Linked DNA regions of Homo sapiens. The gene in region 3 interacts genetically with the main gene of each other region. Each region holds a gene or a part of one and is shown on either strand. Other genes may lie near its edges. The genes, in order: PLA2G4C, CHD1 and PIM2.

Region 1 (4,217 bases), on a different chromosome or scaffold from region 3:
GCTCCTGCGAGGTGTAGAACCTTATCCCGCAGGCGGGGCAGTGGCATGGTCAGGTCTAGGAGTGAAAAGATCCTGCGATGGTTGGAGTTGCGGGCACTGAAGAGGTGAGCCTGGCGTTAGGGGGAGCAGGGGAGACCATCTTCCCCCTGGTGAAATCCTGTTCTAAAATTGGTGATACTCCTGCCTTGGCCTCCCAAAGTGCTAGGATTATGGCCTCATATCTATTTTTAAAAAATAAGAATTCAAGCTGGGTGCGGTGGCTCGCAACTGTAATCCCAGCACTTTGGGAAGCCGAGGCAGGTGGATCACTTGAGTTCAGCAGTTCGAGCCAGCCTGGCCAACATGGTGAAACCCTGTCTCTACTAAAAATACAAAAATAATTAGCCGGGCGTGGTGGCAGATGCCTATGTTCCCAGCTACTCGGGAGGCTGAGGTAGGAGAATCGCTTGAACCCAGGAGACGGAGGTTGCAGTGAGCCGAGATTGCACCACTGCACACCAGCCTGGGCGACAAAGAGTAAGACTCCATCTCAAAAAAAAAAAAAAAAAATTCAAAACCCATCGAGTTGGGATGACGCTTAGTGCTGGGCTTCAGGAAGAGTAGGCAGGAGGGTAGTATGGGAGGTTTCTAGGAGCCACTCTTGGAAGCGGTGCTCCCCACAGATGCCCGATTGCACTGACTGGAACTCGGTCACATGACCACATAACTCGCTCACATGACCACACCTAGCTGCAAAGGTGCTGGGAAATGTGGTACCCTGTTGGGAGGCCACTTCTGGGCTTCAAACCTTCACTGTGAATGGAGCTCACAGGTTTTCTAAAAATGGACATTAAATGAACCAGAGTTGGCCCTAAGGATCTGGCTCACTGCAACCTCCACCTCCCAGGATGAAGCACCTGCCTCAGCCTCCCGAGTAGTAGCTGGGATTACAGGCACACGCCACCATACCGAGCTAATTTTTGTATTTTTAGTAGAGAAGGTGTTTCACCATGTTGGCCAGGCTGGTCTCGAACTCCTGACTTCACATGATCCGCCTGCCTCAGCCTCCCAAAGTGCTAGGATTACAGGCGTAAGCCACCACGCCTGGCCTCAATATTTCTTTTTCTGGGTATTTGAGTATGATATTATATATGATGGTTATTAGACAGCCAGATGCATAGGAGGATTAGCTAATCTGTTTTGAGGAATACTTATCTCCAATATAGTTATATAACGACAACATTCTTTTTTTGAATACTGGTCTCGGGTGCCTAATGACAGAAGGGTGACATCACTAAGGAAGCCTGGAAAGTCCCAGCCCTCCACGTGATCCCACGGATGAAAATAGCTCCGGGTGAGCTCTGGAACAGCTGAAAAAGCTGGAGCAACCAAGCAGGGCCTACAAGCCGAGGAGGGCTGTTTAAAGGCGCAGGGGCCATTTTACCTCCAGGTTGGCCCTGCTCAGGACCAGGAGGAAACACCTCCAGCCCGCGACCTCCTCCCACAGGGGGAAAAGGAAAGCAGGAGGACCACAGAAGCTTTGGCACCGAGGATCCCCGCAGTCTTCACCCGCGGAGATTCCGGCTGAAGGAGCTGTCCAGCGACTACACCGCTAAGCGCAGGGAGCCCAAGCCTCCGCACCGGATTCCGGAGCACAAGCTCCACCGCGCATGCGCACACGCCCCAGACCCAGGCTCAGGCAAGCCGTGGGGGCAGGGAGGGCTGTTTCATCCCGCTGGGGCGGCCATAACCAAGTACCAGGGATTGGGTGCAATTAAATAACAGGATTTCTTTTTCTTTTTTATTTTATTTTATTTTATTTATTTATTTATTTTTTTTTGAGACAGCATCTCGCTCTGTCGCCTAGGCTGGAGTGCAGTGACGCGATCTCGGCTCACGGCAAGCTCCGCCTCCGGGGTTCAAGCGATTCTCCTGCCTCAACCTCCCGAGTAGCTGGGATTACAGGCGCACACCACCACACCCGGCTAATTTTTGTATTTTTAGTAGAGATGGGGTTTCACCATGTTGGCCAGGCTGGTCTCAAACTCCTGAACTCGTGATCCACCCCACTCGGCCTTCCAAAGTGCTGGGATTACAGGCGTGAGCCACCGCGCCCGGCTAGGAATTTATTTTCTAACACTTCTGGAAGCTAGAAGTCCAAGATCAAGGTGTTGGCAGGGTTGGTTTCTCCTGAAGCCTCTTGCAGAGGCCCTAATCTCTCCTTATAAAACCAATCAGGCTGGGCGCGGTGGCTCACGCCTGTAATCCCAGCCCTTTGGGAAGACGAGGCGGGCGGATCCTGAGGTCAGGAGATCGAGATCATCCTGGCTAACACAGTGAAACCCCGTCTCAACTAAAAATACAAAAAATTAGCTGGGCGTGGTGGCGGGCGCCTGTAGTCCCAGCTACTCCGGAGGCTGAGGCAGGAGAATGGCGTGAGCCCGGAAGGCGGAGCTTGCAGTGAGCCGAGACTGCGCCACTGCACTCCAGCCTAGGGCACAAAGCGAGACTCCATCTCAAAAAAAAATAAAATAAAATAAACCAATCAAACCAAATTCCAGGCCACCCTCAGGACCCCACTTTAACTTAGTCACCCCTTTAAGAGCCTATGTCTGGCCGAGTGCGATGACTCATGCCTATAATCCCAGCGTTTTGGGAAGCCAAGGTGGAAAGCTCTCTTGAGCCTAGGAGTTCAAGACCAGCCTGGGTGACATAACAAGACCTGATCTCTACAAAACATAAAAAATTTAGCTGGAGATGGTAGCATGTACCTGCACTTCCAGCTACTCGGGAGGCTGAGGTGAGAGGCTCGCTTGAGCCCAGGAGGCTGAGGCTGCAGTGAGCCACGATCACACCACTGCACTCCAGCCTGGGTGACAAAGCAAGACCCTGTCTCAAAAAGCAAACAACGAAAAAGAATCCTATGTCCAAATACAGTCACATTCTGAGGTTCTGGGGGTTACAAGTCCAACATATGAATTTGGAGGTGGTGGGGGGAAGCTGATTAATTTCATAAGGGGGGTCTTGAAACTGCCTTCGCAGAAATGTAAGTAATGAGAGAAAGCTAACATGACTGACCATCTTGTTTCTAACCTCACAGGCTAGATTTTTTTTTCTTATTCTAGTGCAGAGGCCAAAATTACCATGAGAGGAATTTAATTCATAGTTAAACTTTGAGACAAAGAAAACTGACCCCCAGTCCTTGTTGAGAGATTGAAGCCACATTCATTTACTTTTTATTTATTTATTTAGTTTTGAGACAGAGTTTCACTCTTGTTGCCCAGACTGGAGTGCAATGGCATGATCTCTGCTCACTGGCACCTCCACCTCCTGAGTTCAAGTGATTCTCCTCCCTCAGCCTCCTGAGTAGCTGGGATTACAGGCGCCCGCCATCATGCCCAGGTGACTTTTGTACTTTTAGTAGAGATAAGGTTTCACCATGTTGGCCAGGCTGGTCTCCAACTCCTGACCTCAAGTGATCCTCCCACCTCGGCCTCTTAAGGTGCTGGGATTACAGCCATGAGCCACTGTGCCTGGCCTGAAGTCACATTCATAAGACAAGGTTAGAATCATGAAGGTGCTGGAACTTTGCTAAAGAACAGTCGTGGGTTGAAGAATGACCTGCCATCCCTTAGCTTCCTTTTCTATATGTGCTCCAGAGTCACGTAACCAGGGGTCGCATGATTTATAACTTCCCCAGCTACTTCTATAAATAATATCACTGTCGTGAAACACAGAACTCAGCTTTTTAGTGGGGTGTGGTAGCTAACACCTGTAATCCCCACTTCTTGGGAGGCTGAGGCAGGAGGATTGCATGAGCCCGGGAGAATGAGACCAGCCTGGGCAACATAGTGAGACCTCAATCTCTACAAAAAAATTAAAACTTTGCCAGACGTGGTGGTGCATGCCTGTAGTCCCAGCAACCCAGGAGGCCAAGGCAGGAGGATTGCTTGAGCCCAAGAGTTGGAGGCTGCAGTGAGCTATGATTGCGCCACTGTAGGGACCAGCCCTGCAGGGTCTGTGGGTCTTTCTCCCCATGTGCGGAGACGAGAGATCGTAGAAATAAAAACACAAGACAAAGAGATAGAAGAAAAGACAGCTGGGCCTGGGGGACCACTACCACCAAGACGCAGAGACCGATAGTGGCCCCAAATGCCTGGCTGCGCTGTTATTTATTGGATAATAAGGGGCAGAGTAAGGAGTGTGAGTCATCTCCAATGATTGATAAGGTCATGTGA
Region 2 (2,673 bases), on a different chromosome or scaffold from region 3:
CATTACTATCTAGTTGTGTCCTCTATAACATCCTCCATTCACTACAATTATTGTACAATGCTAAAATGTATCTAAGTTTTGTCTGCATTTTCAAATTGAGTATTTAATGTATATTTAATAGAGGCATCTATATTAATGTGCTTTTACATATTAACTCAGAAATATTTTAAAATATTTTTGCAGTTTCCTATGAAGCTGAAAGTCGTTTTTTAAAATCCTGTATTTAAAAATTAGTTGCTCTTCCAAATCCCTATCCCTTTTTAAGCTGTTGTATTTATAAAGCTATTTGTATTTATAAAGCTATGACAGCTAATTTGGGGTGCAAAGATTATTTTCTAGTTAGAAATAGTAATGGGGTAGAGTAAAAATCAGGCCATTTACTCCTAGAGCATATTCTTGATAAACTTCATGAAAATGAATAACCTACTCAACCTTTTCATATTAACTACAAAAAGAAATTATAATTTATATTACATAAAATTAAAAAGGTTCTCATTAAGCTACTCACTCTGAAAATAAAATTATTCAAACTCATTTTCCATAGTCTGAAAATTAATTTCTAACATACTCTAAACAAAGAATATCTTTATAAGCAAACAGGCTATTGCTTTTAGTAAGAATTATTTATTGTATAAAAGTGGAAGGTTAATTGGTACAGTACTATACATAATCTCTCACCCTTGAAAAATTAAACATAACTGGATAAAAATAACAAAGCAGAATGAAAACAGAATATTTTATGGAGAATGTTCTGCTATATTTATGTACTAATGTTCTTCACCATTGCGTCTTAATTTTTCTGATTTCTTACAAAAATGAACATATTTTATCATTTGATAAATGTACATACAGTTCTATATTTTTCATTCAACTCAGCTAACTAGCTGACTGAAACTTTCAACTAAATGTAGCACTATTTAAAAAATTAGAGCCTTATCTCAGAAAATGCAACATTGTTCTGTGAAATTTGCACAATATAATGCAAATATCTTAGCTTTTAGTAATAAATTAAAAAATGCCAGCCACCATCTTATGACTTAAGCATTATGAATTAGTCAAATGCTATCTTGTGGAATAAAATAGTCATACTAAATGTAGAGAAAAGTGATAAAAGTTTCAAAAATGTGTGCCAGGACTACCTTCATTACTTTTATATTTAATTATAAATTAGATGTTTAAAAAACTGAGCTACTCCCTCACATGTTCTCTCATATACCAGAAAAGAAACAAAGCATTATTATTCTTCAGGGTAACTGTATCAGAAAGAGAAATTACTGCAAAAAACAAAACAAAAAGCAAAAAAACCCACAAGCTTTTATACACATAAACCTAATTGGACAAAGGAAAATATTAAAAAATACACCTATGGACAAATATCTGTAGGTTGCTCCCACAGCTAATTAACAGTGACACACATAGCAATACTATAGAAATTATGTCCACATACTTATATTCGTCAAAGATTCAAATTTGTTACATCAAAGCATACATGCAAGAATGTGTGCCACATGACTTAAAAACTTCCCGCTGAATATAAAACAAAATAAAAATCTGTGAATAAATATAAAGCATCCCATAATAATATCTGTAGGAAGCCAAAAGGGGCCAACAAAAATGTCTATGACCTAAGTTTTACTTCATAGGAATATTCATAGTCTCCAAAACAGATTTAGTTGTAATGCTACACATTACAAATATTCAACTGCTTACCAAAATACTTTTTCTGGCAGCAAAATGTTACTTAAAAACGGGGGTAGGGGGCGGTGGTGGTGGTGGTAAGTGCTTGAGGGAGTAAGAATGCAGCAGAAAATTACAGGAGCCCACATATCCTTTTTCTTAAATTTAATTTGTCATATATAACGTTTTTATATACAATCAGTGTGCATTGTAACAGTTTATATTAAAAGTCAATCAAGTTTATCTAAAATGTTAACCTGGCTGCATAGCACATTTGACATTATTGCCCACATAAAACGGGAAAACAAACGGATTTACAATAACTTTTGGCCGTTTTGGATTCTGAAAAGTGTTTATACACCTACCCTTTTAAACCAGATGCATCTGAAAAAAGTGTTTCCAGAGCATGCAGTTTAGATTTTACATATCTCGCCATTTTTTAAAACTACAAACACAATATTGACTAAAAAAGGAAAAAAAAGGGAATAACATGTATCTAATAAAATATTCAGTATAAAAAGAGGACTAATGGAATTAAGTGGCCCCTTTCCCCATTTTTACATTCTAAACAATGATTCCATCAAGACAAATCATTAAAAAGTGTTATTACACTGATTTTTTTTTTTTTAATAAGAAGGCCTGAGTTGGTAGGGAAAGGAACAGTCAAAAAAAGCCTGAGAAAGGGAAGGAAGTAAGGAAAGTTCCTTTAATATTTACAATAATTTACAGCCATTTTTTTTGTAAAAAGGCATAATAGATCACAAACAGGAAATTCCTGGCTATTTTACAGATATAAGTACAGAATTTAAATATTCAAGCTTGTGATGAAAAGCGGCAAGGTGGTCGCAGTGTACAATGTAAACAAGTAGCTTTGGAAATGAACAAAGTCCTTGAGTGTTTTTCTTTATTAAGAAAGAACTCTCTTTCATTCCTTCCTGAAACATGATCACAGGTCAGAGTAAAGTTCATATATAAACATAATTTAAATGGAGGTCA
Region 3 (4,266 bases):
TGATAAACTGCATGTGTCATGGTGTATGTATGTCTGTGTCTGAACAGGTCTATCCATGTCTGTTTTTGTGACACTGCCACAAAATGTGATTCTATCACATCAGTACATGTCTGCCTTCAGAGCAGTGCATGTGTGTCCCTGGAGCATCTGTGCATCTTCCTGTGACAGACTCTGCGTCTCTCATTTCTGGGACAGTACAAGTCTTGCTGTGACAGTGCATATCTGATGGTGACAGTGTGTTTGTGACAAGTTCTGCCAGTGTGACGGGACATTTCTGTGTCATCACATGGCAAATGTAGGTCTGCGTGAGTGCCTTTCTGTAACAGTGTATCTCTGGGTGTCATTCTAGGACATAACTATTTTTCTGACAGTGTGCTTGCCTGAAAGTGTATGTCAGTCTCTGGCTGCATGTGTATCTAGGTCGTTTCTGTGAATGTGTCTGACAGTATGTGTTTGTGTATATCTTGGCATTCATGTGTCTTTGGAGTGCATTTTTCTTCCTGGGGTGTGGCGCCTTTTCTGGCTGTTTTTCACAAATTTGTGTCTGAGAGTTGCCACTTCTCTAGCAGCCTCTATCATGTCTCTCAGTCCTTGCCTCTCTCAACTCCAAGAGCAGCCCCATGCCACCACCACTCTGGGCTCACCCCCATCCCCCAAGAACCACCCCCTGCTGTTCTAGATTCTAGACTTGCTGACTGGGCCCAGGGCTCAGGGTTAAAAGCTCCAATAAACACTCACCAGGCAATGCTGCCTTTGACCAATGCACACCCGTGGCGTTGATGGTAGGGGTTCCCCCTCCCTGGCTACCAGATATTTCCAGGGCCCTGGCCTCAGCTTTCCAGTGAAGGCCGCCAGTCGCCTGGAGGACTCCGGTGAAGGAGTCCGACAAGCACCTTTCGAGACGGAGTCTTGGATAGCCACAAGCGCGAATTCTTAGAAGCCCGGCCTGGCGCTATCTCTGTGCTAATATCCAGGCAGCGGCGGCAAACCAACTTCCCAGGAAAGGATACTGCGCAGTTATTTTTTAAGTGTAAATACACACACACACCGCCACCACTACCAACAACAACCCCGCGCAACAACCAAAACAAGCGCGGTGCTGCAAAGGGATTCCCAGAACCGGTTTCCTCTTGGTGTGAGCCCCACCTCAAGCCCCCTCATTTACATGCAGGCCCCGCCTCCTCGGAAGAACCGAGCGTGTATTTGCATAAGGGGGCCCTTGAAACGATGAGGGTGGTATGCAAATAAGAACTGGCTCCGATTGGCTGTGGTACAGCAGGTGCCGCGTCCGGATTGATCAAAGCCAGGTGGGCGGGGCTGTCGCCCAGGGTGACTCTCCCGGGAGGCGCGTGCCCAGGCTCAGTAGCATTGGGGCTGGCGCGCGCGGCGAATCTCAACGCTGCGCCGTCTGCGGGCGCTTCCGGGCCACCAGTTTCTCTGCTTTCCACCCTGGCGCCCCCCAGCCCTGGCTCCCCAGCTGCGCTGCCCCGGGCGTCCACGCCCTGCGGGCTTAGCGGGTTCAGTGGGCTCAATCTGCGCAGCGCCACCTCCATGTTGACCAAGCCTCTACAGGGGCCTCCCGCGCCCCCCGGGACCCCCACGCCGCCGCCAGGTGAGTACATCCTCCCCTACTGCAACCAGACGGGGTGGGCTGGAATGATGGGTTGCAGCGCGGGGGGAGGGAGTCGTGGCTGGGCTCAGCACGCCGCCACCCTGACTTCCTCGCCTCCGCCTGCGTAGGAGGCAAGGATCGGGAAGCGTTCGAGGCCGAGTATCGACTCGGCCCCCTCCTGGGTAAGGGGGGCTTTGGCACCGTCTTCGCAGGACACCGCCTCACAGATCGACTCCAGGTATCCGTCATGAGGGTCTTGGGAGGGTCAGGTGCGTGTGGCGGGGGCGGGGGTCCTGGCCCTGGAATGCTGGTTGACCGAGGAGTGAGCCTGCAGAGTGTGTAGAGGACCAGGTGTGTGTGTGTGTGTGTCCGTGTCCGTGTCCGAGGAGTGAGCCTGCAGTGTGTGTAGAGGGCCAGGTGTGTGTGCGTGCGCGTGTGTGTGTCGGTCTAGGAGGTTATGGGCGGGGGGGGGGGGCAGGGGGCTTCAGATTCCGGAGTTCCTTGACCCCGGGGTCCAGGCTGTGTATGTGTGGGAAAGCAGGGACCTAGATGTGAGATTTGTGGGACTTTTGGAGGTAGGTGTCCAGTGTGGAGTCATGCGGACCAGGACCCTGGTACAGAGTTGGGGTGTCGTAGAGCTAAATAGGAAGATTGTGGGCCTGGGGTATCAGGAAATCTAGAACTCAGGACTTGGAGTGATGAGTCCTGATGCCTGAGAACGGAGAGCCCAGGGCTAAGGAAGGTGGGAGAGATAAACTTGGTTCCGAGGACCTGGAGGGCAGGGGAGACGCCCTGGTACGCGTTCTGTGGGGTGCTGTGGTTGGGGACCAGAAAGACTAGAGTGCTGGTAGATGGAGGAATACTGGAGGTAGGCAGAAGGTCTAGACTGGGAGGGGTCTGGGGATCACCTGCTGGCCTCCTTATCACGGCCTTCTTCTCCAGGTGGCCATCAAAGTGATTCCCCGGAATCGTGTGCTGGGCTGGTCCCCCTTGGTGAGTACCTTCGGAGCCCTTCCTAACCTACCTACTCCATCACTGATGTATTCACCTCCTTGCTTTTCCAGGGGATGTATGACTCCCTGGGCCCTGTAACAGTGAGAATACTGCCAGCCCATTTATACTCCCTTGGGGTGACATACAGTTCTGATTCACCCCAATTCCCCTAGAGCCCTGGATTCTCCCCTCCAACAAACCTTTACCATCCTTCCTCCAAACACTGCTGGGGGACTGCCCGCAGGGCGTGCTGGTGGGGAACAAGGGGCAGAGGTCACTGGTTGCCATGGTGATGGTGGCTGCTTCTCTCTTGCCGTTATAACGCTAACGGACATCAGGGCGGGTCTGGGCAAGTTGTAGAGTTGGGAGCGCCCCCTGGCGGGCTCTAGGGGAAACTGCGCCTGCGCAGTCCATGGGACCCAAAGGGAGAGGGTGCGCCTGCGCAATATCGGTATTTTTGCATCTCGGTGAGAAAACGTCTGCTGCCGTGCAAGTCAGCAGCCTGGCCAGGAGAGGGCTCTACCTCATCCCAGAAGGTTGCTGCTCGAAGTGTACCTGCGCAGGGCTTGGGGAGGCAGTGGGGGGCGGATTTTGTGGCCCCCAGCGTTTATACTTTTTTTTTTTTGGAGACACAGTCTCCCTCTGTTGCCCAGGCTGGAGTGAGGTGACGCGATCTCGGCTCACTGCAACCTCCGTCTCCTGGGTTCAAGTGATTCTCCTGCCTCAGCCTCCCAAGTAGCTGGGACTACAGGAGCGCACAACCATGCCCGGCTAATTTTTGTATTTTTAGTAGAGACAGGGTTTCACCATGTTGGCCAGGCGGGTTTTGAACTGCTGACCTCAGGTGATCCGCCTGCCTCGGCCACTCAAAGTGCTGGGATTACAGGCATGAGCCACCACGCCCGGCTGCATTTATGACTTTTTTTTTTCCTTGAGACGGAGTTTCGCTCTGCTGCCTGGGCTGGAGTGCAGTGGCGTGATCTCAGCTCACTGCAGCCTCCACCTCCTGGGTTCAAGCGATTCTCCTGCCTCAGGCTCCTGAGTAGCTGGAATTACAGGCACCCGCTGCCATGCCCGGCTAAGTTTTACGTTTTTAGTAGAGACCGTGTTTCACCATGTTGGCCAGGCTGGTCTCGAACCCCTGACCTAGTGATCTGCCCGCCTTGGGCCTCCCAAAGTGCTGGGATTACAGGCGTGAGCCACCGCGCCCGGCCTCTAATTTTGTATTTTTAGTAGAGACGGGGTTTCTCCATGTTGGTCAGGCTGGTCTCGAACTCCCGACCTCAGGTGATCTGCCCGTCTCGGCCTCCCAAAGTGCTGGGATTACAGGCGTGAGCCACTGCGCAGGGCCACATTTAGGCTTTTTATTGGCTGGTTCTAGGTGCTTGGTGATGCTGACAAAACACATGATAACACTAAGTCCTTTTGTGCTAGGTCCTTTGTAATAAATCACTCAGCTGTTTAACAAATTAGGTATATTGACCACCTACTATATGACAGACATAATTCTAGACACTCAGCAAAGTATTACATAAGTATTGAGAGCTCATTTTGTGCTAGGTCCTTTTTTACTAATTGTTTTCACCTGTTTAACAAATATTTATTCAGCCCTACTCTGTTAGCAGCCACTGTTCTAGTGCTTCATATACGTCCGTGAACAA

What was found.
Region 1: changes in PIM2 (region 3) and PLA2G4C together harm fitness less than expected from each alone (positive genetic interaction), as found in Homo sapiens cells (one large-scale study listed by BioGRID).
Region 2: changes in PIM2 (region 3) and CHD1 together harm fitness more than expected from each alone (negative genetic interaction), as found in Homo sapiens cells (one large-scale study listed by BioGRID).

The regions. Positions count from the first base shown.
Region 1 is NC_000019.10:48,107,948-48,112,164, reverse strand, and holds the start of PLA2G4C (cytosolic phospholipase A2 gamma isoform 1 precursor), read left to right. Parts: upstream 1-1,347; 5' UTR 1,348-1,649; coding exon of another isoform or gene 1,650-1,678; intron 1,679-4,217. UniProt on the Homo sapiens protein: Calcium-independent phospholipase, lysophospholipase and O-acyltransferase involved in phospholipid remodeling with implications in endoplasmic reticulum membrane homeostasis and lipid droplet biogenesis.
Region 2 is NC_000005.10:98,853,377-98,856,049, forward strand, and holds the end of CHD1 (chromodomain-helicase-DNA-binding protein 1), read right to left. Parts: 3' UTR 609-2,673; downstream 1-608. UniProt on the Homo sapiens protein: ATP-dependent chromatin-remodeling factor which functions as substrate recognition component of the transcription regulatory histone acetylation (HAT) complex SAGA. Regulates polymerase II transcription.
Region 3 is NC_000023.11:48,916,120-48,920,385, reverse strand, and holds the start of PIM2 (serine/threonine-protein kinase pim-2), read left to right. Parts: upstream 1-1,361; 5' UTR 1,362-1,551; coding exon 1,552-1,612; intron 1,613-1,740; coding exon 1,741-1,850; intron 1,851-2,554; coding exon 2,555-2,605; intron 2,606-4,266. UniProt on the Homo sapiens protein: Proto-oncogene with serine/threonine kinase activity involved in cell survival and cell proliferation.